3 linked regions of the Homo sapiens genome follow. The protein of the gene in region 1 purifies or fractionates together with the protein of each later gene. This does not show direct contact. Each region holds a gene or a part of one and is shown in the gene's direction. Other genes may lie near its edges.

What was found.
Region 2: the proteins of NUP43 (region 1) and NUP133 purify together in Homo sapiens (affinity purification with mass spectrometry; 7 studies listed by BioGRID and IntAct, with this or other methods). This does not show direct contact.
Region 3: the proteins of NUP43 (region 1) and NUP107 purify together in Homo sapiens (affinity purification with mass spectrometry; 10 studies listed by BioGRID and IntAct, with this or other methods). This does not show direct contact.

Annotation. Positions count from the first base shown.
Region 1 is NC_000006.12:149,723,279-149,730,310, reverse strand, and holds the end of NUP43 (nucleoporin Nup43), read left to right. Parts: exon of another isoform or gene 1-792; coding exon of another isoform or gene 793-821; exon of another isoform or gene 822-1,750; coding exon of another isoform or gene 1,751-1,791; exon of another isoform or gene 1,792-1,831; intron 1,832-1,832; coding exon of another isoform or gene 1,833-1,921; exon of another isoform or gene 1,922-3,112; coding exon 3,113-3,342; 3' UTR 3,343-5,996; downstream 5,997-7,032. UniProt on the Homo sapiens protein: Component of the Nup107-160 subcomplex of the nuclear pore complex (NPC). The Nup107-160 subcomplex is required for the assembly of a functional NPC.
Region 2 is NC_000001.11:229,497,858-229,506,174, reverse strand, and holds part of NUP133 (nuclear pore complex protein Nup133), read left to right. Parts: intron 1-16; coding exon 17-135; intron 136-4,072; coding exon 4,073-4,176; intron 4,177-5,311; coding exon 5,312-5,419; intron 5,420-6,356; coding exon 6,357-6,491; intron 6,492-7,868; coding exon 7,869-8,039; intron 8,040-8,317. UniProt on the Homo sapiens protein: Involved in poly(A)+ RNA transport. Involved in nephrogenesis.
Region 3 is NC_000012.12:68,738,145-68,746,461, forward strand, and holds the end of NUP107 (nuclear pore complex protein Nup107), read left to right. Parts: intron 1-3,668; coding exon 3,669-3,836; intron 3,837-4,210; coding exon 4,211-4,318; 3' UTR 4,319-7,665; downstream 7,666-8,317. Other genes in the region: SLC35E3 (solute carrier family 35 member E3), read left to right, coding at 8,234-8,317. UniProt on the Homo sapiens protein: Plays a role in the nuclear pore complex (NPC) assembly and/or maintenance. Required for the assembly of peripheral proteins into the NPC. May anchor NUP62 to the NPC. Involved in nephrogenesis.

The DNA of each region.
Region 1 (7,032 bases):
CAGGCCGGGTGTGGTGGCTCATGCCTGTAATCCCAGCACTTTGGGAGGCCAAGGCAGGTGGATCACCTGAGTTTGGGAGTTCGAGACCAGCCTGACCAACATGGAGAAACCCCGTCTCTACTAAAAATACAAAATTAGCCGGGTGTGGTGGCTCATGCCTGTAATCCTAGCTATTCAGGAGGCTGAGGCAGGAGAATTGCTTTTACCCAGGAGACAGAGGTTTCAGCGAGCCGAGATTGCACCATTGCACTCCAGCCTGGATAGCAAAAGCGAAACTCCGTCTCAAAAAAAAAAAAAAAGGGCGTGCTTTCCTCATTACAGTCAGTTGTAGGTTATGGTCAGCCAAAGACCATGCACTTGTAATCGGGGTTTATGTGTTTTTGCATTTTCCAAGTTTCCTGTTTTTGAGGGTTTGTCTGTGGCTCCAAAGTTCTTTTGCTTATTCATTTATTCAGAAATATTTACTGAATGCCTACCATGTGGTAGGCATTCTTCTAGGTGTTAGGACGTGTAACAGTGAGCAGAACGAAATGTCGAAACGCATAGAGCAAATATTCTAATAGTTAAAAAAATAGATAATGTATCAGTAAGAGTCCAATTAGAATGTCAGAAACTACCTTAGATGTAGAAGGAATTGGTCTCACATGTGTTAGAAGGGCTGGGAAAACAAAAGGTAATAGGAGGGGTGCTGGGAGAACAAATAGGAAGAAAAGGGAAAACCCAGAAATAGTAATTGTTAGTACCCCTGCTACTTGACTGTTGAAAATGCTGTAAAAGTTTGTTCTGAATTAGGAGAAAAGGCGCTCCCTCAACCAGGCTGAAACTACCACCAGTGTTGTTGCCAGAAACCTGGAGCAGGAAGGAGCTGCTTCTCCCTTCCGCCTTCCAGTCACCCACCATTAATACCTGCTATTGGCAAGGCCCATCTGGATGGCAGATGGCAAAGCAGCCTGGAAAGTGGAGTTTACCAACTTCTACCTCCTACAGTATATAGTGGAGCACAGCAAAGTGGAAAAGGAGGCCGGGCGCGGTGGCTCACACCTGTAATCCCAGCAATTTGGGAGGCCGAGGTGGGCAGATGACCTGAGGCCAGGAGTTCAAGACCAGCCTGGTCCAACATGGTGAAACCCTGTGTCTACTAAAAATACAAAAATTAGCTGAACGTGGTGGTGGGTGCCTGTAATCCCAGCTACTCTGGAGGCTGAGGCAGGAGAATTGCTTGAACCCGGGAGTTGGAGGTTGCAGTGAGCCAAGGTCACGCCACTGCACTCCAGCCTGGGCAACAGAGCAAGACTCCATCTCAAAAAAAAAGAAAAAGGAAAATAACATGGCCAAATACACTGCTAATTACCATGAAGAAGAATACAGCAGAGTAGGAGGATAAAGAATAAAGACAGGGGTGAGGGGAGCTACTCTAGTGAGAGTCAGAAGAGGCCACTTGGCAGAAGGAACATTTGAGCAGAGACTTAAGAGAAGTGAAGGCATAAGTGACATGAAAGCATTCCAGGCAGAGGAAACAGCAAATGCTGAGGGCCTGAGACAGGCAGAGAACTGCAAGGACACCACGGTTGGAGCTCAGGCAGCAGGGTACAGTGGTGGGAGATAAGGACTGGTGGCTGAGGAGCCCTGGGACTTTGTAGCCCATGATAAGGACTTTAGACTTATGGGAGGGGGAGGAGAAAAGTGGAAAACAGGGAGATGAGGAAGGAGTCTTATCACAGTGGCTTGAATAATGTGTTAATCTTTACAGCGTCCAAGAGCAATGTAAAATGTAGGGGCAGTAAAAGATAAACAGAAAAACTAAGGGGAAAAAAATTCTAAAACTTCTTCAGAAAAATTCTGGAGCGGAGAGCATGTGTGGAGCATGCATGCATGTCCATGCTATAACTTCATCTACAGAGAAACAAACAGTTTCATCTAAGGATTAACTAAGTATGTACTTCGTTTTTACTTCCTTCCTCCCCTAACCGCACAGTCTTGAACTTGCAAGTTTACTTTTAAGGAACCTTGGTTAGACTGGAAATAAAACTTTATTCTGTGTCTACTATTGCAAGGCACAGTATTAGACACTGTGAAAAAGTAAAACATATAAAATATGCATCCTGCTCTTAAGACATATTTAGTCATGGACAGAGGCATGGATAGTTCAATTAGGATATAAGAATTGTTATAAAGTAGTAAATTAATGGTACATACAAGTGCTGAGGGTTCAAGGAAAGAGAAAAACATGAAGTAGAGGTTGTCTTCAAAGTTTTCTTAGAGAAGGAAGTTCAGCCATATTTTAAAGGATCAGCAAGATTTTAAATGTACTAATCTTTAAGCTTCAAGACATAGGGACTTGGCACAGAGCACTTAGCACAGAGCCTGGCACATAGTAGGTACTCAGTCATTTGTTGAGTGAATTAAATTTGTACTTATTTGATATGACAGCAAGTTGAGAGGAAAGTAAGTTGCGAATAATGACTAAAATTGAAATATACTGCCTCTGCCTCACTTTATTCTATAGTAAGTACAGTGCGCTGTTAGAGATAAAACCTTATAATCTAGTAGTGTTCTAATCTGCTTGTAAGAACATTTATCTAAAAAGCATAAGAATGAAAGATTTGAGGTAAGGCGATTATATTTTAAGAAATATAGTAACAAATATATATTTAGAAATATATTTCTAGAAATGTTCATCTAGAAATATGTCTAGAAATTCTTTCTCATGATCATTTTATTTTGTTATTACCCAAGAGTTTATATTTCCATGTATTACCTACATTTTTGGTTTCTTTTTTTTCTTTCCTTATTCAACTTGTATGCTGGCCGTTTTGCTACCTTTCTGAGACTTTCCATTAAAAGATGAACAGAAAGTCAGTTGAAATCACCTGCTTTTCCTGAAGACTTCGAGTTTGGTATCCATATTATCCCATGGAAATTTGAATATTTAATATCACTGAATAAGCCTTTGGTCCAAAGTGGTGATGTATAATAATGGAATTATTAGCCTATTATTCTGAGAATTAAACACATTGATATCATCACCTTTCTAAATATCAGTAGAAGTTTGAATGTTTACTAATATAAAAATCATCTTGAAAGATTTCTTCCTTTTCTTTTTTTCTCCCAGGAGGAAGAAGCAGTACTTTTTTGTCTCATAGCATTAGTAACCAAGCTAATGTTCACCAGTCTGTCATTAGCTCCTGGCTCAGCACTGATCCTGCAAAAGACCGAATTGAAATCACAAGCTTACTTCCCAGTAGGTCTCTGTCTGTGAACACTTTGGATGTTTTAGGTCCTTGTCTTGTTTGTGGAACCGATGCAGAAGCAATTTATGTTACTAGACATCTTTTTTCGTAGAAGTACTATAATTATAAGATTTCAGATAGAACATGCAATTAGCCTTTTGAAATCCAACTTCTGTGCAAAATTTTAGTATCAGAAAATACGAGATTTGCAGGGGAAACATCAGTAAACTACCATTAATGTCAATGCCCAGTTTTGACTTTTGTTAGCCTGACACTCCCAAACAGTTGTAGAATCCGATAGATGACTGATGGCAAAAGATTGTGAACATGTGGAAGAAAATCAGTGGGATTCTGGTGCTGATGAATAGGTTGCCTTCAGAGTATTATTGACAGACAGCTTGTGGAACTAATTCTTTATTTTTGATGTTGTGGGAATTAACACATCAATGGTGGTTATGGGAACTACCAATGGGTTCCTACAATTTTTATCAGTAGTATGTGGCATATACACCTTCCTAGTGGCAGTTGCCAATGTTAATGATTATTCTTTTTATTGCAAGTATTTCCTATGATCCTTCCACACTTTATTTCCTTAATAATAATAAACTTTTTCAGAAAGAATTGAGTAGAGCAAAAATGACAAAGATGTGTAGCTGTGTTCAATTTTTTTTTTTTTTTTTTTTTGAGGCAGAGTCTTGCTCTGCTGGAGTGCGGTGGTGCAATCTCGGCTCACTGCAACCTCCACCTCCCAGGTTCAAGCAATTCTCCTGCCTCAGTCTCCTGAGTAGCTGGAACTACAGGTGTGCGCCACCACGCCCAGCTAATTTTTGTAATTTTAGTAGAGACAGAGTTTCACCATGTTGGCCAGGATGGTCTCGATCTCTTGACCTCATGATCCACCCGCCTCGACCTCCCAAAGTGCTGTGATTACAGGTGTGAGCCACTGCACCCGGCCTGAAATTTTTTTAAGGTGAAAATGTTTTGACAAGTTCCTTTTTCAGAATAGGTTTTTGAGCAGAACTCTTTCAGCTTGTTAGACCCAACTTTGCTTTTGTTTAGCTTCACAGCATAGCTGAAAGTTGCCAAACTGGACATTGTGCAATAAAGTAGAATTCTATATTGATAAGCAAACTATTTCCAAACTAAAAATGTGATAGATAAAAGTGTGATTAATCAAATGATATGATCAGAGTAAAGAATTTTGCCATTTTGATCCTTTTACTTTGTTTTAGCCACCTATAGTGTTACCAACCATCTTTATCCTTGTCTGCAGGGATAATAATGAACTAATGTAGTGTTTTAAGATAATTTAATGATACTATCTTTCCAAACTTTGTTAGATTTTAAATGTATTATTGACCTGAGACCTTAATGACAAATCACTGCTATTAGACAATTGAAGTGTTCATTTACTTTGTAATTCCAATAATCATAGTTATGGAATTATGGTAAGGTTTTGCTTTTCTGTCCTAATAAATATATATATTTTTTGAGATGGAGTTTTGCTCTTGTTGCTGAGGCTGGAGTGAAATGGCATGATCTCAGCTCACTGCAACCTCCGTCTCTTAGGTTCAAGCAATTCTCCTGCCTCAGCCTCCCGAGTAGCTGGGATTACAGGTGCTCACCACCACACCCAGCTAATTTTTGTATTTTTAGTAGAGATGGGGTTTCACTGTGTTGGCCAGGCTGGTCTTGAACTGACCTCATGATCCACCTGCCTCAGCCTCCCAAAATGCTGGGATTACAGGCTTGAGCCACTGCTCCCGGCTGATTTTTGTATTAGTAGAGACGACAGGGTTTCACCATGTTGGCCAGGGCTGGTCTCGAACTCCTGACCACAGGTAATCAGCCCGCCTCGGCCTCCCAAAGTGCTGGGATTACAGGCGTGAGCCACTTAGTATTTGTAACCATAAGAGAAAGTATATTTTAACAGCATTACATTTCATGCCAATTGACAAGTTTTGCCAATTTTAATAAGAAACTAAGCTTTATGTAATGTAACACCGTAATTTATGAATTTGTTCATTGTCACTGCCTTTATTCATGAAACTGTCAAATAGAGTGTCTTTCAAGGGTTGCAGGATCTTAGAGATAGAAAGTACCTTGGTGATCATCTCCAGCCTAAATTTCATCATCCCTTCTATGGTATTCCCAACAAATTATCATCCAACCTATACTTAAAAACATATGGTGGCCAGGCATGGTGGCTCACGCCTGTAATGCTAGCACTTTGGGAGGCCGAGGTGGGTGAAGCACCTGAGGTCAAGAGTTCGAGATCAGCCTGGCCAACATGGCGAAACCCCGTCTCCACTAAAAATGCAAAAAAAAAATTAACCGGGCGTGGTGGCAGGCATCTATAATCCCAGCTACTTGGGAGGCTGAGGCAGGAGAATTGCTCAAACCCGGGAGGCAGAGGTTGCAGTGACCCAAGATCGTGCCACTTCACTCCAGCCTGGGCAAAAGAGCAAAACGCCATCTCAAAAAATATACATATATAAGGAGATAAAGTTTCCCATTTTCCAATACAGTTTCACATTTGAACAGCCCTAATTGATACAACTTTATGGCAGGGTTTTAGTGTGTGAGTGGGATCCAAAACACTCAATCCTGTAAAAGGGTACAGTCCTATTGTATGTTAACACACTGATGATGTGAGCCTGTGAGATGAGCCAATCACCAGTTGTTATGTTCGAATCTGCTTTGTGTTGGGACGCTTTAATGTCAGGGTTTCACTAAATAAATGAATTTTCATATACTGAACTGAAATTTGCTTCTATCTGTCTTATCTCGGGAGCCACACACACAAAATTCCTCTCATCACATATTCAAATATTCAAAATTGATTATTATAGTCTCTCCAGTGAAGGTTTCCTTCTCTTTCTTTCCATTTTTGGCTAAATCCTTCTTATCCTTCAAGACTCCTTCTAGGTGTCATTTTCTCCAGACAGCTTTTATTGGCCTCCAGCAATCCGGACTAAATTGCACTCTGCTTCAAAAGCCCATTGTGCAGAACTTAAATTGTGCGCAAAGCAGTGTGTTAAGGAGCCTGTCTCCCCCTACTGGGCCACAAGATCAAGAACAGCGCCCATGTCTTCGTGTAACAGTGTTTAACAGTATCTGAACCATAGTAAGCAATGAGTCACTGTTAATTGACCTTGTTTTCACAATCTTGTTTTCCCTTTAAAAATTACTGCTCTTTGTCAAAGGCCTTTTTTTTTTTTTTTGAGACTTTAAGTCTCGCTCTGTCGCCCAGGCAGGAGTGCAATGGCACGATCTCAGCTCACTGCAACCTCTGCCTCCCAGGTTCAAGCAATTCTCCTGTTTCAGCCTCCCGAGTAGCAGGGATTACAGGTGTGCGCCCAGCTAATTTTTTGTATTTTTAGTAGAGACAGGGTTTCACCATGTTGGCCAGGCTGGTCTTGAACTCCTGACCTCAAGTGATCCACCCTCCTCCACCTCCGAAAGTGCTGGGATTATAGGCATGAGCCACCGTGCTCGGCCAGAGGCCTTCTTTTAAGTGTGACTTCCAAGATAAACACTTTTTCATATATTGTCTACCTTGGTGATTATGACAGAAATCTTGCCATCCTGTTAATAGGAATGATATTCCTTTGTAATGCTGTGTCAGCTTTCTGAAGTGTTCACATGTGATACTCCTAAGCCACACTTCCTATATTCGGAAGTTAATACAAATGGTTTTTAATCCTTAATATGGGCCTTTCTTGTTCTAAGAAAAATTTCATTTCAATATAGGAAAGGACTAACTATTTTCTTTGAATCTTTTGTAGAAGCTATTATTTTC
Region 2 (8,317 bases), on another chromosome or scaffold:
AGACTCTTTTCTTTAGGGGAACACCAACACGAATGTTCCCACACCACTCCATAACTGAGTCTGTGAACTATGATGTGAAAACGTTTGGATCTTCTCTTCCTGTTAAAGTCATGGAAGCCCTAACATTGGCTGAAGGTAGGTGTCATCTTTCCATTTACCTATATTAGCAGTTTAAAATGGAGCCTAGATGTGGCATAGAGATTAAATTTATGTTTTCTCTAGTATACCTTTACGTAAATGGTGAGAGATGGGTGGCCTGTCTAGTGTTTTTTTATTTTTATTTTTTCGAGACAGAGTCTCACTCTGTCACCCAGGCTGGAGTGCAGTGGTGTGATCTCAGCTCACTGCAACCACCACCTCCCAGGTTCAAGCGAGTTTCCTGCCTCAGCCTCCCAAGTAGCTGGGATTATAGGTGTGAGCCACCACGCCCAGCTAATTTTTTGTATTTTTAGTAGAGACAGGGTTTCACCATGTTGGCCAGGCTGGTCTTGAACTCCTGACCTCAGGTGATCTGCCCTCCTTGGCCTCCCAAAGTGCTGGGATTACAGGCGTGAGCCACCACATCTGGCCACCTGTCTTAGTTTTTTTTTTTTTTTTTTTTTTTTTTTTTAACTGTAATTGAGATGTATAATACATTCGAGAAGGAGAATGAGTTCATTTGAACACAATCAAATTAAGTCTTTAATGGTTTTAGGTACTGTACAGTAGTCCCCCATTATCTTTGGGGGATATCTTCCAGGATCCCCAGTGGATGCCTGAAACCTTGTATAGTACTAAACCTTATATATACTGTGTTTTTTTAATACATACACACCTATGATAAACTTTAGTTTATAAATTAGGAACAGTAAAGATGAACAACAGTAATAATAAAGTAGAACAATTATAACAATATACCAGCAGCACTACTCTTGTACTTCGTTTGGGGTCATTAACTAAAATGAGAATATAAGCATTGCATTACTGCGACAGTTCATCTGGTAACTGAGACAGCTACTAAGTGACAAACAGCTGGATAGTCTCAGGGGTGTCCAATCTTTTGGCTTCCCTGGGCCACTTGGAAGAAGAATTGTCTTGGGTCACACATAAAATACACTTACGATAGCTGATGAGCTAAAAATAAATAATGAAAAGGTCTGTGTATAAATCTTATCATGTTTTAAGAAAGTTTACAAACTTGTGTTGGACCGCATTCAAAGCTGTCCTGGGCCACACGTGTCCCTGGGCCATGGGTTGGACAAGCTTGGGGTATACAGTATGGATATGCTGCACAAAGGGTTGATTCACAACCTTTAGGCAGGACAGTATGAGATTTTATCACTTTACCCAGAACAGCATGCAATTTACAACTTAGGAATTGTTCATTTGAATTTTCCATTTAATATTTTCAGACTACGATTGACCACAGGTATTTGAAACTGCAGATAAAAGGGGGAAATACTGTATATGCAAAATTCAGTCCTGTTTACAGAGTTGATCAGGTTTATGAAGTTTCCCGTGAAACCCCAAAACTGGCACCTCATGTTATTGGGTTTAATAATACAGTAAAATCAAGTCCTACCTCCATTTCTGGATCCTATGTAGCATCCCAGAGGCTGTGTGCACAAATTTATGACGTTACCATTGTCGTGGTGTACCTTTAGAAGCGTCTGTTGGTGGAGAATTAGTGTGGAATTTTGACAGATACAATCAACACAAGCTTAGAAAGGCAACTTTAAAGATGAGCAGTTGGATGACACTGGAAGAGCAAAGTTCAGAGCAGCCTTAATATCTGCTGAAGTCATTTTTATTAAGGCTTGAATTCTAGATCTTTGTGATTTTTCTGGAACAGTATTTTTCAAATTGTAGGGGTGACCAAAATTTAGCGGTTCTTGACCAGCATTTAAAAAAAGAAGAAATAGAATGCATCTCATATGTTTAGTAAATTTTGTTCGTTTTACTTAAATTGTATATGGGTGTATCGTGATGTAAAATGTATTATACTGTGAATAACTCTATTTACTGTATAACTTAATAACAGTAAAAAAAAAATGCTGAAATTACTCTGTTTTAGAAGAAGGAATATATCTCATCAACTGGAACTTGGCACATCTTGCCTGTAGGTCCTTGGGAGCTTTAGGGATAGTTGTTTTCAGACAACTACTAACCTTTCTATACATTGTTCTGTTTTAAATAAATAAATGTATATATATATATTGGTATATATGTGTATATTTTTCCCCTCTAAAAATTTCAGTTTACATTTAAACCTTTTAATGTACTACTCATATTTTAACAGACTAGATTAAATAACACAGCCCCAAATCTAGAAATTCAGAGAGTCCTTAGAAATTAGGATATATAAAACAAAGAGGTGTGTCAACTTGAAGAACTCTTCCCCACTTAGAAACCTGCCAACTACTGTTAAGTCAGCCCTTAAAGGCACACCGGTCGAGGATCTGGAGTTGTAGTGCTTTCAAGAAAAAGAAAATTACTGAGCAGATAGTTCAGTTGAGCAAAAAGCCTCACTCAGCCTGGGCTTGGTTTGATATTTTTGCTTGTACATTGTCTATGCCTTTTACTTCACCCTTCTACCTTTCTGTAAGTAAAGAGCAAAGCTCAACTTAATAAAATTTCCAGGGCTGTTAACACATTTGTGGAGGTTTACCACCAATACTTAAGATATGTGCTAATTTAGTTTTGTCACTTAATAGAGAACGTAACTCTTTGTCTCCATGTACTAAATAATTTATCATTCCTTTAAGGAGCTCTTATTTGAAAATTATGTGCTTTTGGTCCTCCAAAAGCACATTGTTTTCCTTGAAATGTTTTATATAGTTAATGAGTTTGTTATTTGTTTTACTTTATCGATATAATTATAAATGTTGCTAAATATTTCTTTTTTGTTTGTTTGTTTTGAGACAGAGTCTTGCTCTGTTGCCCAGGCTGGAGTGCAGTGGCGCGATCTCAGCTCAATGCAACCTCTGCCTCCCAGGTTCAAGTAATTCTCCTGCCTCAGCCTCCCGAGTAGCTAGGATTACAGGTGCACGCCACCATGCCCCCATGCCTGGCTAATTTTTTTTTCTATTTTTGGTAGAGATGGGGTTTCATCATGTTGGCCAGGCTGGTCTCGAACTCCTGACCTCATGATCCACCCACCTCGGCCTCCCAAAGTGCTGGGATTACAGGCGTGAGCCACCCTGCCTGGCCTCTCTTTTGTTGTTTCTGCTTACTTATTTTTTGATATGGAGTCTTGCTCTCTTGACCAGGTGGGAGTGATGTGATCATGGTTTACTGCAGCTTCAATCTCCTGGGCTCAAGTGGTTCTCCTGTGCCTCAGTCACCCTAGTAGCTGGGAAGTGCACTGCCAAGCCTGGCTATTTTTTTTTTTTTTTTTTAAGAGAGAGAGTCTCACTATGTTGCCCAGGCTGGCCTCAAGCAGTCCTCCCAGGGTGGCCTCCCAAAATATTGGGATTTATAAGCATGAGCCACTGTGCCTGGCCTAAATATGTCTTATAGGAAATAAGCTATCTGGTCTGTTTGTAACAAAAAATTAAGGAATATTAAATGTCCCAAATACACTTTTTGCCTTTAGATATATTTCTTTTTTCTTTCTTTTTTTTTTTTTTTTTTTTTTGAGATGGAGTCTGGCTCTGTTGCCCATGCTGGAGTGCAGTGGCACGATCTCGGCTCACTGGAACCTCCACCTCCCAGGTTCAAGCGATTCTCTTGCCTCAGCCTCCCAAGTAGCTGGGACTACAGGCACGTGCCACCACACTCAGCTAATTTTTTGTAGTTTTAGTAGAGTTGGAGTTTCACCATGTTAGCCAGGATGGTCTCGATCTCCTGACCTCGTGATCCTCCCACCTCGGCCTCCCAAAGTGCTGGGATTACAGGCGTTAGATATATTTCTAAAGTTGGTTATCAGAGTTAATAGATCTATTGTTTTTGGTGTTGATAATTTTGGAATATTCAAAAGTATTTGTTGTGAGGTAGTCGTTTCTGAGTGTGCCAATTACTTTTTTTTGATAAAGCGTGTGGTAATAAAGATTTATACTATAAGATTAATCACCCACCTCATTTTTTCCTTTAGTCGATGACCAGCTGACCATTAACATAGATGAAGGTGGATGGGCTTGTCTGGTGTGCAAAGAGAAGCTCATTATTTGGAAGATTGCTCTGTCACCTATTACTAAGGTAATGGCTCTTTAGAGAGCTGGAACAAGATAGAGGAGAGGAATGCCAATTGACTTTTCATTTTTACCCTAATTTTTTTACAGTTGGAGGATAGTCAATAGGAAACTACTTAGGCATTAAGAGTTTGCATTTTCATAGTGATGTGAAATAATGAGCATGCATACACATTTGTGTATTGGGAAAAAAGTTTCCCCCTTTTGAAGATCTGTGTTGTTTACATTTAATAAAATTAGAGTCATTGATATTTCCAATGAATATAATGCTAATCCGTCTGCCTAATGAAGTATCAGACTAAATGCTATCCACATAAGCAAATGAACTTTGAGTTTGCGTATTTCTGAGAAGACAGAACTATGTTTTGTTGAACCTACTGAATGATGCTTAATAAAATAAGAAAATATGATACCAGTTGCTAGTTAAACTTTTCACTTGTCCACTTCCAACAGTGGGTTATCATTTGCATGTCTAGTAACGTATCCTCAGCAACCTTTTTCTGTTTGTTACAGCTTAGATACACTACTCTCTTCTACCAGTCATTACTTCCTTGGCCATGTTCCGTTGGAACTCAGGGCTCCTGCTTACCTCAATTCTTCACTTCTGCTGAACTCTGTGTTACTGCTGCCTAGAAAAGGGTGTATGTGGTTAGGAGTAATAGGTGAGGGTGAATTCCTGGGGGACATACTGAGTTAGCTGCGGGATCCTGATATTTGGCTGAGAGTCTAAGAAATTGTTTCCTAGGTAACTTGGTATAATTACTCTTTGGTCATGCTAATTTTAAATGTCAGATGAACAAATCAAGAGTAAATTGGGAAAGTTCCATAGGAAGCCTAAGCACTCATCTTAACCTTACTTAGTCTTCTCTTAACTGGACTTTTCTAGCCCAGGAAGAGGTTAGGATAGTTGTTCTTCAGAGTTTGGTCTACCTTTAAGTTTTCATGATTCAATACTCTTAAGATACTTTGTTTTAAAATTACTGAAAGCCTGATTAAAAGGAGATGTGAGAAGAAAGAATATTTGTAGAATGGTGTTTCCAGCAGTGAGTCAGAATCTAAAATATGCAGAGAAGGGAAATCAGATGCATCTTCAAAATACTGGATTTGATGTGAAAGATTTTCTGTTTGGGTTTGTTCTACAGTTATCCGTTTGCAAAGAACTTCAGCTGCCACCTAGTGATTTCCACTGGAGTGCCGACTTAGTGGCTCTTTCTTACTCTTCTCCCTCAGGTGAAGCACATTCTACTCAGGTAGGTGACTTAAAAGCTTATTTAAATAAACTTTTTACAACAAGGACATCCTAAAGTTAGAGGAATCATCCTCTTTGATTTTGAGATATAACTATAAACCTATAGAAATCAAGATATTGTGGTATTGGCAAAGAGAGCTACACACATAGGTCAGTGTAACAGAATAGAGAATACAGTTATAGATCCACATAAAGGCACCCATTTGGTCTTTGATGAAGGTGCAAAAGCAATTCAGAAAGGATGGTTTTTGACGATGATTTTTCTCTGTATCAATGCATAGTGTAGGAACATTTGTAATTTTAAAATTACAAATGACCAATTTGTATTGTATTGTATTGAATTTTCCCTTAAACCTCATACCTTGTTACAAAGATTAATTTGAAATGGGTCATAGATCTAAATGTAAAACAGTAAAACTTTTAGAAGAAAACAGAAGAAAATCATCATGACCTGAGATTAGACAGAGTTCTTGGAAATCACCAAAAGCATGATCCATAAAAGAAAAGTTTGATAAAATTAATAATAAAATTAAAATAAAATAAAAATTTAAAGCGTTGCTTTGCCAAAGACAAGAAAATGAAGAGACAAGTTACAGAGTAAGAAGAATTTGCAAATCATGTATCCAGCAAAGGACTTGTATCCAGAATATTTTTTAAAATTCTAAACTTGATAAGAAAACAATGCAGTTTAAAAACAGGGGCTAGGACTTGAACAGACACTTAGTGAGGATATAAGGATGGCACATAAGCACATGAAGAGATGTTCAGCATCATTAGCCATTAGAAAAATGCAAACCAAAACACTGGTGAGTTCTTATTTCTGATTTTTCTTGATCAAATAGTAAATTGTCCTGTTTCTTTGTATCATTGCCATCAGACTGCTGGTTTTTGGGTTCCTCTTTTATTGTGATTGCTGATTGTTGTGATCTTGTTTTGAGGCTGTTGCTGTCATGGTTGCCACCAGAGAAGGATCTATCCGCTATTGGCCAAGCCTTGCTGGTGAAGATACCTACACAGAGGCTTTTGTAGATTCGGGAGGTGATAAGACTTACAGTTTCCTAACAGCAGTGCAGGTATACCACGGATATTCCTTTATATTTATTGGAAAGCTGTGATTTGGCTTGGAAATAAATTTTTGTTTTTATTTTTAAATAGAGGTGGGATCTCCTTATGTTGCCCAGGCAATTCTCAAACTCCTGGGCTCAAGCAATAACTCCTGCTTTGGCTTCCCAAAGTACTGGGATTACAAGCATGAGCCACTGCACCCCAGCCGTGGAAATGAGATTTGATGACTAAAAATGTGGGGTTTTAAAGAGACTATAGAGGCCGGGGAGGGATCAAAAAGAGACAAGGAAGAGAAGAATGTAAGGATCTATGATTTGAACAGTTAGACAAGGGAGGCTCTTCTCACAGGACTCCAAAATATCAATTTCAGATAGTAGCTTGTGATATGAATTTCTTTTAGAAACATTTTATAAGATTGGCTTAAAAACTGTCAGACACTATAAAGAATGGCTTGCATTATCTTCTTTGTAGGTTCACAAAGAAACAAAATCTGGCTGAGCATGGTGGCTCATGCGTGCAGTCTCACCACTTTGAATGGCTGAAGCGGAAGGATTGCCTGAGGCCAGGAGTTCAAGACTAGCCTGCGCCATAAAACAAAACTTTGTCTCTACAAAAAAATTTAAAAATTATCTGGGCATAGTGGTGTGTGCCTGTAGTCCCAGCTGCTCAGGAGGCTGAGGCAAGAGGATCTCTTGAGCCCAGGAGATTGAGGCTGCAGTGAACTATGATCTCACCACTGCACTTCTGCCTGGGTGACAGAGCGAGACCCTATCTCTAAAAAAATAAAATAGCAAACAAAAAATATAAATAAATAAAATCTGATAACCTAATTTGTTGAATCTGAAATATGATGAACTTGTAGTTTAAAAATCAGAATTTAAAAAATATGCAATTTTTTTCTGCTACAAAAGTTGTTTTTTTTTTTTTTCTTTTTTCGAGACACAGTTTTACTCTGTCACCCAGGCTGGATTGCAGTGGCGCAATCTCAGCTCACTGCAACCTCTGCCTCCTGGGTTCAAGCAATTCTTGTGCCTCTGCCTCCCAAGTGGCTGGGATTACAGGTGCGCACCGCCACGCCCAGCTAATTTTTGTATTTTTAATAGAGACGGGGTTTCACCCCGCCTTGGGCTCCCAAAGTGCTGGATTACAGGTGTGAGCCACCATGCCTGGCCAGTTTTTTTCTTATGAGAGTTTTTCTATGTAGGATTAATAATATTAACTGAATGGATTCTGAAATATATTACTTTAATAAAATAACAACGTTCTATTTTGTATTCTTTTAGATTTATTTCAATTACGATGATTTTTCTCTGTATCAAAGAATTTTTCATTTTATCTTAGCATTCGATGCTAAACTGAACTAACCTCATAATGTTTTTTCACAGGGAGGAAGTTTTATTTTGTCTTCATCAGGAAGCCAACTAATTCGGTTGATACCTGAGAGCTCAGGAAAGATTCATCAGCATATCCTGCCTCAGGGGCAAGGCATGCTTTCAGGAATTGGTCGAAAAGTTTCTTCTCTTTTTGGAATTTTATCTCCTAGTAGTGATCTCACAGTAAGTTTATAAAATAACTATTTTACAAGCTTATTTCTTAGTTAAATCAATAAGTTGAAAGTATCCTCTGAATTTAGTATTCCTCCATATGGACAGTAGCTTATGCGAAATAAAACCTTTGGTCTTTTTAGTGAACTATTTTTATTATGATGAAATGAGATCATACTAACCTTCTCCCATAACTTGTAACACTAAAATCTTTAAATCAGACAGATTATCTCACAAGTACATTTTTTGAACTAAAACTATTATGTAAAATATAAAATGTGTTTCTTAAA
Region 3 (8,317 bases), on another chromosome or scaffold:
ACGTGCCTGTAGTCCCAGCTACTTGGGAGGCTGAGGCAGAAGAATCACTTGAACCTGGGAGGCGGAGGTTGCAGTGAGCCGAGATTGCGCCACTGCACTCCAGCCTGGCAACAGAGCGAGACTCTGTCTCAAAAATAAAAATAAAAATACAAAAAATTAGCCGGGTGTGGTGGCTCGCGCCTGTAATCCCAGCTACTAGGGAGGTGGAGGCAGGAGAATCGATTGAACCCAGGGAGGCGGAGGTTTCAGTGAGCCAAGATTGCGCCACTGCACTCCAGCCTGGGCAACAAAGGGAGACTCCGTCTCAAAAAAAAAAAAAAAAAATTGGAATTCCCTTCCCTTACATAGATAGGTTCCATGGCAAGTGCACACAATATGTAAGACAGAACACAGGCTAGATTTCAGCCCCACTTACTTGCTTGGCCAGCCACCCTTGTACAAGGCACGGCTGTACACAATAGCCCTAGCATTATGTGCTGTTTTCGTATAGCTACCCCTCAAGTTTTTAAATAACTGGAATAGTCCCCTTAGTGTTGGGGCTGGTGGCACAGAGGAATGGCAGAGAGAATGGAGCAGGCAGGTCATCTTTACCTACCTTTCACTACCTCTACCTCTAGCACATTCTAGTCCAAGCCTCTACTGTCTTCCGTGGCTTCTCACTGTTCTTTATACAATCGTTCCTTATACAGATGGACTAGTGACCCTTTCAGAATAAAATACATGCGACTGTCTTACCCAGAACTTTCTGATGCCTTCTTATTGCACTTGGAATAAAATCTTTCTTTTCTTGATGTACAAGAGTATACATACTTTTGTTTTGTTCTTTTTTTTTTAAACTAACCCCCTAATCTTGTGTCCTACTGCTCTCCCATCACTATATCCTGGCATTCTGGGCCTCTTCATTGGTTCCCCTCTGCCTAGAATGCTCCTTCGCCAAGATAGGTGCATGGATGACTTTGTACTTCTTTCAGCAGCTGCTCAAATGTCATCTCTTTCAAGAACCTCTCCCCAACCCAACCACCCTATTTAAAATAGCATGTATGCATGTGTATACACACACACACACCTGTCCCTTTTAATCTCCATATCCTACATTAGTTTTCTTCATAGCACTTAGCACAATCTGATATAAAACATATTAATTTATTTGCTTTTTGTATGTCTACCCTCATTAGAATATAACCTTCATGAAGGGAGTAACCTTGTTTTCTTTATTTCTTTGACTCTGGCACTTAAAATAATGCTGAGCACATGGGAGGCTTTCAGTGGTACTTAGTAAATGAATGATACTGCATTACTGAGGTGAATGTACTGTCTTCAGATTAGGAATAGCTGTAATATCAGTTCCAATCAACTCTTGCTATCAACACATATTAGGTAATGAGTTTTTCTCACATGTAAGGCACTACATGGGGGGGCGCGGTGGCTCACGCCTGTAATCCCAGCACTTTGGGAGGCTGAGGTGGGCAGATCACGAGGTCAGGAGATCGAGACCATCCTGGCTAACACAGTAAAACCCCATCTCTACTAAAAATACAAAAAATTAGCCGGGTGTGGTGGCGGGCACCTGTAGTCCCAGCTACTCGGGAGGCTGAGGCAGGAGAATCGCGTGAACCCGGCAGGCGGAGCTTGCAGTGAGCTGAGATCGCGCCACTGCACTCCAGCCTGGGCGACAGAGCGAGACTCCGTCTCAAAAAAAAAAAAAAAAGTGGAAATATCCCTAGTGGAAATAATCCGTCTGTTTTACATATTTACCGGCTATTTCAAAGCTTTTGTTCATTCAGATGAGAAAAATGTCTTCAGTTGTAGCAGAGCTGTTTATTTGCTTTTCCTTGTAGCAATTTGCTGGGTCTGTCAGCCATTACCCTGGATAGTTGCTGGCAGCCCGCCCGCTAGTATCGGAATTCATTATAATTAGCAGAAGAGATTGTCTGCAGCACACTCTGATATTATGGCAGCAAAAGGATTTAGTAAAAGCAAGTCTGGGTCCATCCTGTGAGATAAGAAAGTAACCTGCTGCTTTTCGGGCAACAAGGAGTCAGAAGCCAGGGGCACCCGGCCTCTTTAACATAGACAGAAAGACTACATTGGAGCACAAATGGAAAGGTCCAGAAAGAAGCAGTTCTCTTATTCTTACTGGGTTCTAGGTTGGGATCACTAATATGAATTACAAGTAAAACCTTGAAGCATTTTAAATCCACCTCTGAAGGTAGCAAGTATCTATTTGAGAAAAGAAATAAAGGTGCTTCCCTTGTAAAGAAGCACTTTAATATTTGCTTTTATGTATTTATGCTTCAAACAAGACCAAAATATTGATAGTAATTTTTCCTATGTTTGGAAACCTGACCTAGATTAGCCCAAATTAGTACAATTACTCCTTGGTATAATTACCAGATTATACTTTGTTGTTGATTAACCCCTCCACTTACATGTCCATTTGAAAAATGTTTTAGCAATTTAATATAGCCTCTCACATGAAGATACTTTTAGGTATTCCATTAGGCTTTTCAAAGGAGCAGTTATTATTTTAGCTTGTCCTGTTTTTTTTTTCTACACTATTAGTGCTATTGATTTCCTTCCTATTTTTAAGATTATTTCAGAAATTGTAGTGTGTAATTTCTGTAATCCCAGCACTTTGGGAGGCTGAGGCAGGAGGATCACTTGAGCCCAAGAGTTCGATACTAGCTTGGGCAACATAGGGAGACCTCATCTCTACAAATAATAAAATTATTTTTTTTTTTAAATAGAAAAATTAGCCGGGCATGGTGGCACATGCCTGTGGTTCTTAGCTACTTGGGAGGCTGAGGTAGGAGGATTGCTTGAGCCCGGAGATCAAGGCTTCAGAGAGCCATGATTGTACCACTGCATTCCAGACTGGGCGACAGAGTGAGATGCTGTCTCAGAAAAGAAGAAAAAGGTTAAAAAAGAAAAGAAAAAAAAAAGAAATTATGTGGTTGGTTACTTTCTAATTATTTTAATTTTCAAATTTTTTGTAAGTAAATGTAGTGGGCATAAGAGGTTTACTCTTTTTTCTGTACTTTTACTGTTCACATCGATTTTAAGAAAGATCCATGTATGTATAAAGGAATGCCAATTGTTTTTTCTGCTTGTTTTCCTTATATATCTGTTCTGACTCATTAATTGTATTATTCAAATCTATAGGTTCTGTTTTTCTGTTTTTAAAAATTATATAAAGAAATTATAAATTCCATTTTCCATGTGTATAAGCAAAGTAGTCTGCAATGAAGTTGACCCTCCCTGTGTGCCCCTCCCCACATCGTCTTTTTCCCAGCAACAGTCATTGCTGTCAGTCTGTTGTGTCCTCTCAGGCCTCCTTAGAGCTATCTTTATTTATATGTATAAACATCCAAAGGAGTGGTGATTGTTTTCTGTTCTGATTTTTGCTCTAATGATATTCAGTTTCCAACTCATTCTTTTTATGCATGTTTTTATTCAGGACATAGTAAGTTTATTAGAAATACAAATGCAGAAGCATTTTATTTTCACTGTCATACCTCTCTGTAGTCTACGTTGTTCATCTTCATACTTTTTTGCTGTTAAATCTTGTCTACCAATTACATTCTGGGTTTGATTCAGTACCTGGCTTTTCTTTTTGTAAGGATCTTTAGCTTAAATTGTTAAAATGATTTATTGATGTCTGTTTGTAGGATGCCAAAGAAGACCATGAAAGAACACATCAAATGGTCTTACTGAGAAAGCTTTGTCTGCCAATGTTGTGTTTTCTGCTTCATACGATATTGCACAGTACTGGTCAGTATCAGGAATGCCTACAGTTAGCAGATATGGTATCCTCTGAGCGCCACAAACTGTACCTGGTAAGTTCTAGAGCCTTGTAGTTTTAAATTTTAATGATTTGATATGCTCTGTAGTAATATTAATTTTGTGAAGATGTGTTTACATTTGTAATTGCTCTTGGATTTTCTTAAAGTAATAGTCCAGTTTTAATGTTTTAATGTTTGTACTTTTTTCCCAAAATGTGTGTATATTTGTAAGCAGTTAGAAATATATAGACTGACTCTGAGAATTCACCTTGAAATTCCTGAACCACTCTAATTTACTAGGCTCTGGCTACATAAATCTTAAAGAGGCATTTCTTCTTATATGAAGCTAATCAGATCGATTAGGTAACTAAGTTCATACTTGTCTACTTGTCTTTGTTCTCATTCTTATTTCTCTTTTTAAAAATCAGGTATTTTCTAAGGAAGAGCTAAGGAAGTTGCTGCAGAAGCTCAGAGAGTCCTCTCTAATGCTCCTAGACCAGGGACTTGACCCATTAGGGTATGAAATTCAGTTATAGTTTAATCTTTGTAATCTCACTAATTTTCATGATAAATGAAGTTTTTAATAAAATATACTTGTTATTAGTAATTTTTTCTTTTGCATTACCATGTAAAATTTAGACATTTGAATTTTGTACTTTTCAGAATATTATCGTGACACTTTCAACATGTAGGGATATCAGCGTTTCTCTGTGTGCTTGTTAATAAAACTATATAAAAATTAAAATTTTCTGTTTTTACAAATTCCAGGGTTGTCTCTTTTTCATGTAATAAGAAAATTAAATTTTCTGTTCTAGTTTTTTCTGTAATCATAAGCATTCTGATATTTTAAAATCATAAAGATGATGGAAAGTAGATTTATTTTTAAGCCAGGTACGTAATTTTTTATTTATCATAAAATTTAGTATTTTTGAATATTAAAATTAAGAAGATGACTATAACAAGAATTTTTCTAACATAACATGCTATTATTATTTTAGTTATTTTGAAGACATTTCTAGTTTAACTTTCATTTAGCAAACTTCCTATCAAAATAAGAGCATATAAAGACTTAGCGTAGTACCTGGCACACAGTAAGCACTGAATATATTGGAGATTACAGATCCCGCTCTTCTAATAGGGGAAATACCATAAGTACATTTAAAAGGTGTCATTTAAAAATACAAGTAGTGGCTGGGTGCAGTGGCTCACGTCTGTAACCCCAGCACTTCGGGAGGCCGAGGCAGGTGGATCACCTGTCGTCAGGAGTTTGAGACCAGCCTGGCCAACATGGTGAAACCCTGTCTCTACTAAAAAAATACAAAAATTAGCCGGGCATGGTGGCAGGTGCCTGTAATCCCAGCTACTCAGGGGAGGCTGAGGCATGAGAATCTCTTGAACCTGGAAGGCAGAGGTTGCAGTGAGCCGAGATCACGCCACTGCACTCCAGCCTTGGGGACAGAGCGAGACACTGTCTCCAAAAAAAGAAAGAATTACAAGTAGTCTGAGCAGGAAGAACCTCTCTCCAGCTGAAAAGACTCTCAGGAAGTAGTATTGGTTTGGGGTTTGAGTAATGCACTGAATTTGCAAAGGCAAAGAGTGACACAAGAAGGATGAGGCTCTATAGATTAAGAAATCAGTATGAGCAAGAAATGATAAATGCTGGGCATTATTATGAACCAACAAATACACCAAATAGGCTAGAGTGTAGGGCTTATAAACAGGAGACAACTAAAAGAATGTGATTCTAATAGAAAACAGTAATTCCCCAAACTTGCTAATCATCTAAGGAATTTCTTGAATATGTATTTATAGATGCCACCCCTAGAGACAGCTGGCTTGGGAAGCCTGAGATGGGATCATAGAATTTGATCAGTTCTATATTATGTGCTTTTTTTGTTTTATTTCTCTAAAGAATTCATCTTGTCTTCCTGTTTTCTTTATTCTTACTAATATGCAAATGATTTTTACAGCTCATGCAGTCCTGTAATCATGATTATTGCTATGCTACTTTGCAAAAAATAAAAACAAAAAATTCATACCAAAACAAATACAGACTAGATTTGGGGTGGGGAGGGGAAATAAGTGAGTCTTAAAAGTAGTTTTGTTACTTGCAACAAACTGTATATATAGAAACTTTGTACAACCCAGGGTGACTATTTCCAAAGACTGTTACCTATTTGTTGAACAACAGTGGGAAAACTACTTAGCCTAAATGAGGAGGAGGAATATTGTATGCTTCCATCGTAACCGTATGTGGGTAAATGGACAAGGTCTGTCATCTATTTAGGAACTTGTTTTGCATGTCCCCCACTCTGTATTTGTCTTTTGTTGTGCCTTGTTTTTTGAATGTCCTTTAAAAAACACAGCACAGAAACCCACTAAGGTTGTGGAATTACAAAATTCCTTCAACCTTAGACTCTTAATTAGGATGCCCTCAAATGGACTTGTTTTTAATTTTTATTTATTTATTTATTTTTGAGACATGGTCTTGCTCTGTCTCCCAGGCCGGAGTGCAGTGGCATGATATCTCACTGCAAACCTCCGCCTCCTGGGTTCAAGCGATTCTCCTGCCTCAGCCTCCCTAGTAGCTGGGATTACAGGCGCCTGCCACCACGCCTGGCTAATTTTTGTATTTTTAGTAGAGACGGGGTTTTGCCATGTTGGCCAGGCTGGTCTCAAACTCTTGACCTCAAGTGATCCACTCGCCTCGATCTCTCAAAGTGCTGGGATTACAGGCATAAGCCACTGCACCCAGCCAATTGGACTCCTTTGAGTCCTTAGGGAGTCAATGTGTGTGTTGCTGCTTATTTAAATACAGTTCAGTTGGAGCCCCAAGAGTGCCAATGTGCTCCTCACAATTCCCAAATGCCTCTCTTCCTGAACACCAGAAGTGGTGGGCACCTGAGTGGGAAATTTCAGGCAACTTAATTTAGTTCCTCAGTGCCTACTCTTGAAGAACTGGGTTTTCATTCTAGAGAGGAAACTCAGGGAAGGGCGTGTTGCCTATCACAGGTTCGCATACTAAGTTTTAAAAACTTTTCTTGGTGTGACTTATGCCAAGGAATTATGAAGACTTTTTCCTTGAGCATTGCATGAAGGCTACAAAGTTGGAACAGGCATGTCCTGGGTGTGAAAGTTTTAATTTCCCTACCTCATTTATTTATTTAATTTAGAGATGGGGGTCTCACTATGTTGCCCATCCCGGCTTCCAACTCCTGGGCTCAAGCAATCCTCCCACGTCAGTCTCTCAAATAGCTGGGACTACAGGCCCACGCCACCATGCCCTACTTCCTCATTTATTTTAAATTTTTTGTACCACAGTCTCTCTTTTTAATTTTATGACTGCTGAATTAATCCTAGACTCTGTCTTAAAACTAAGAATTGATGTATTGGCAGGAACAGCTGGACATTCAAGATGTTTTTGTGATTCCTTTTTTAAAAATCTCCTTTTGTACCTGTAATATCTACAATATATAATCTTTCTTTATCGACTTAAGGAGGAAGGAGAAAGGAAGAACCTGACTTCTGTGTGAAGGACCTTACTGTCGATCAAGACTGTTACTCAAAGTTCTATCTCTTAGTCATTGCACCTGACCTGATCCAAAACATATATATATATTTGTATGCACCCCTAGAGACAGCTGTATATATATACGGTTTTGCCAGGTTGTACGTTTTTTTCTCGAGTTGTAAGTGAACACAGTAGCACTCGTTTACATTGTCAAGGGGACATCTTTAGAGAACACATTTTCTCACTGTTGAGCTAATAATGCTTTGTGAATGTATGATCTAAGGAGAAACCCTTGTAGTTATACCCGATGATGCTGTCTGTTGGAAAGTAAATTTTGAATGTCTTTTTCCAAAAATAAAAAATAAAAACATGCTTTCAATAAGTTCTTTCCCCCCTCTGGCGAGGGCTACTAAATTTGCTCAGCATTTAATACGTAAAATTGGCTAACAGTGTCTGCACAGCCAGAGAGAAGTTGTCTAGCAAATCGGGTCAATGACACACAGGAAACAAACATCAAGAAAGGGGTCCTAGATTGGTCCAGTCAGGTAGGCGTTAGGTGACCAAGGGGGTCGGGGACCCAGAGGATAGGACCCAAAGACGCAAGCGTCGCGCGCCCAAGGCTCAGCGCGCCTGCGCAGGGTAGCGGCCGTTCAGCCAGCGGCTCGGGGGCGGAAGCACTGGAGCCCCGAGTCACGTGGCTGCGGGCGGAGATGAGCGGGGCGTGGGACGTGCTGCGGCGTCCTAGCTGGCTTACAGGGCGGCGGCGGGGTGTGTGTCCTCTGTTAAGAGTGCTACTCGCCCGGGGTTGATCTGTGCATGCCACTCCTGGGTCAGACGGTGAGGTCGGCGTCTGCGAGGACGCGGCGGTGGAGTAGAAGGGCAGCCGGAGACAGGCCCGGCGCCCCTTCCGAGGCTAGACGGCCCCAGCTTCGCGGGGATCATGGCATTGCTGGTGGACCGAGTGCGGGGCCACTGGCGAATCGCCGCCGGGCTCCTGTTCAACCTGCTGGTGTCCATCTGCATT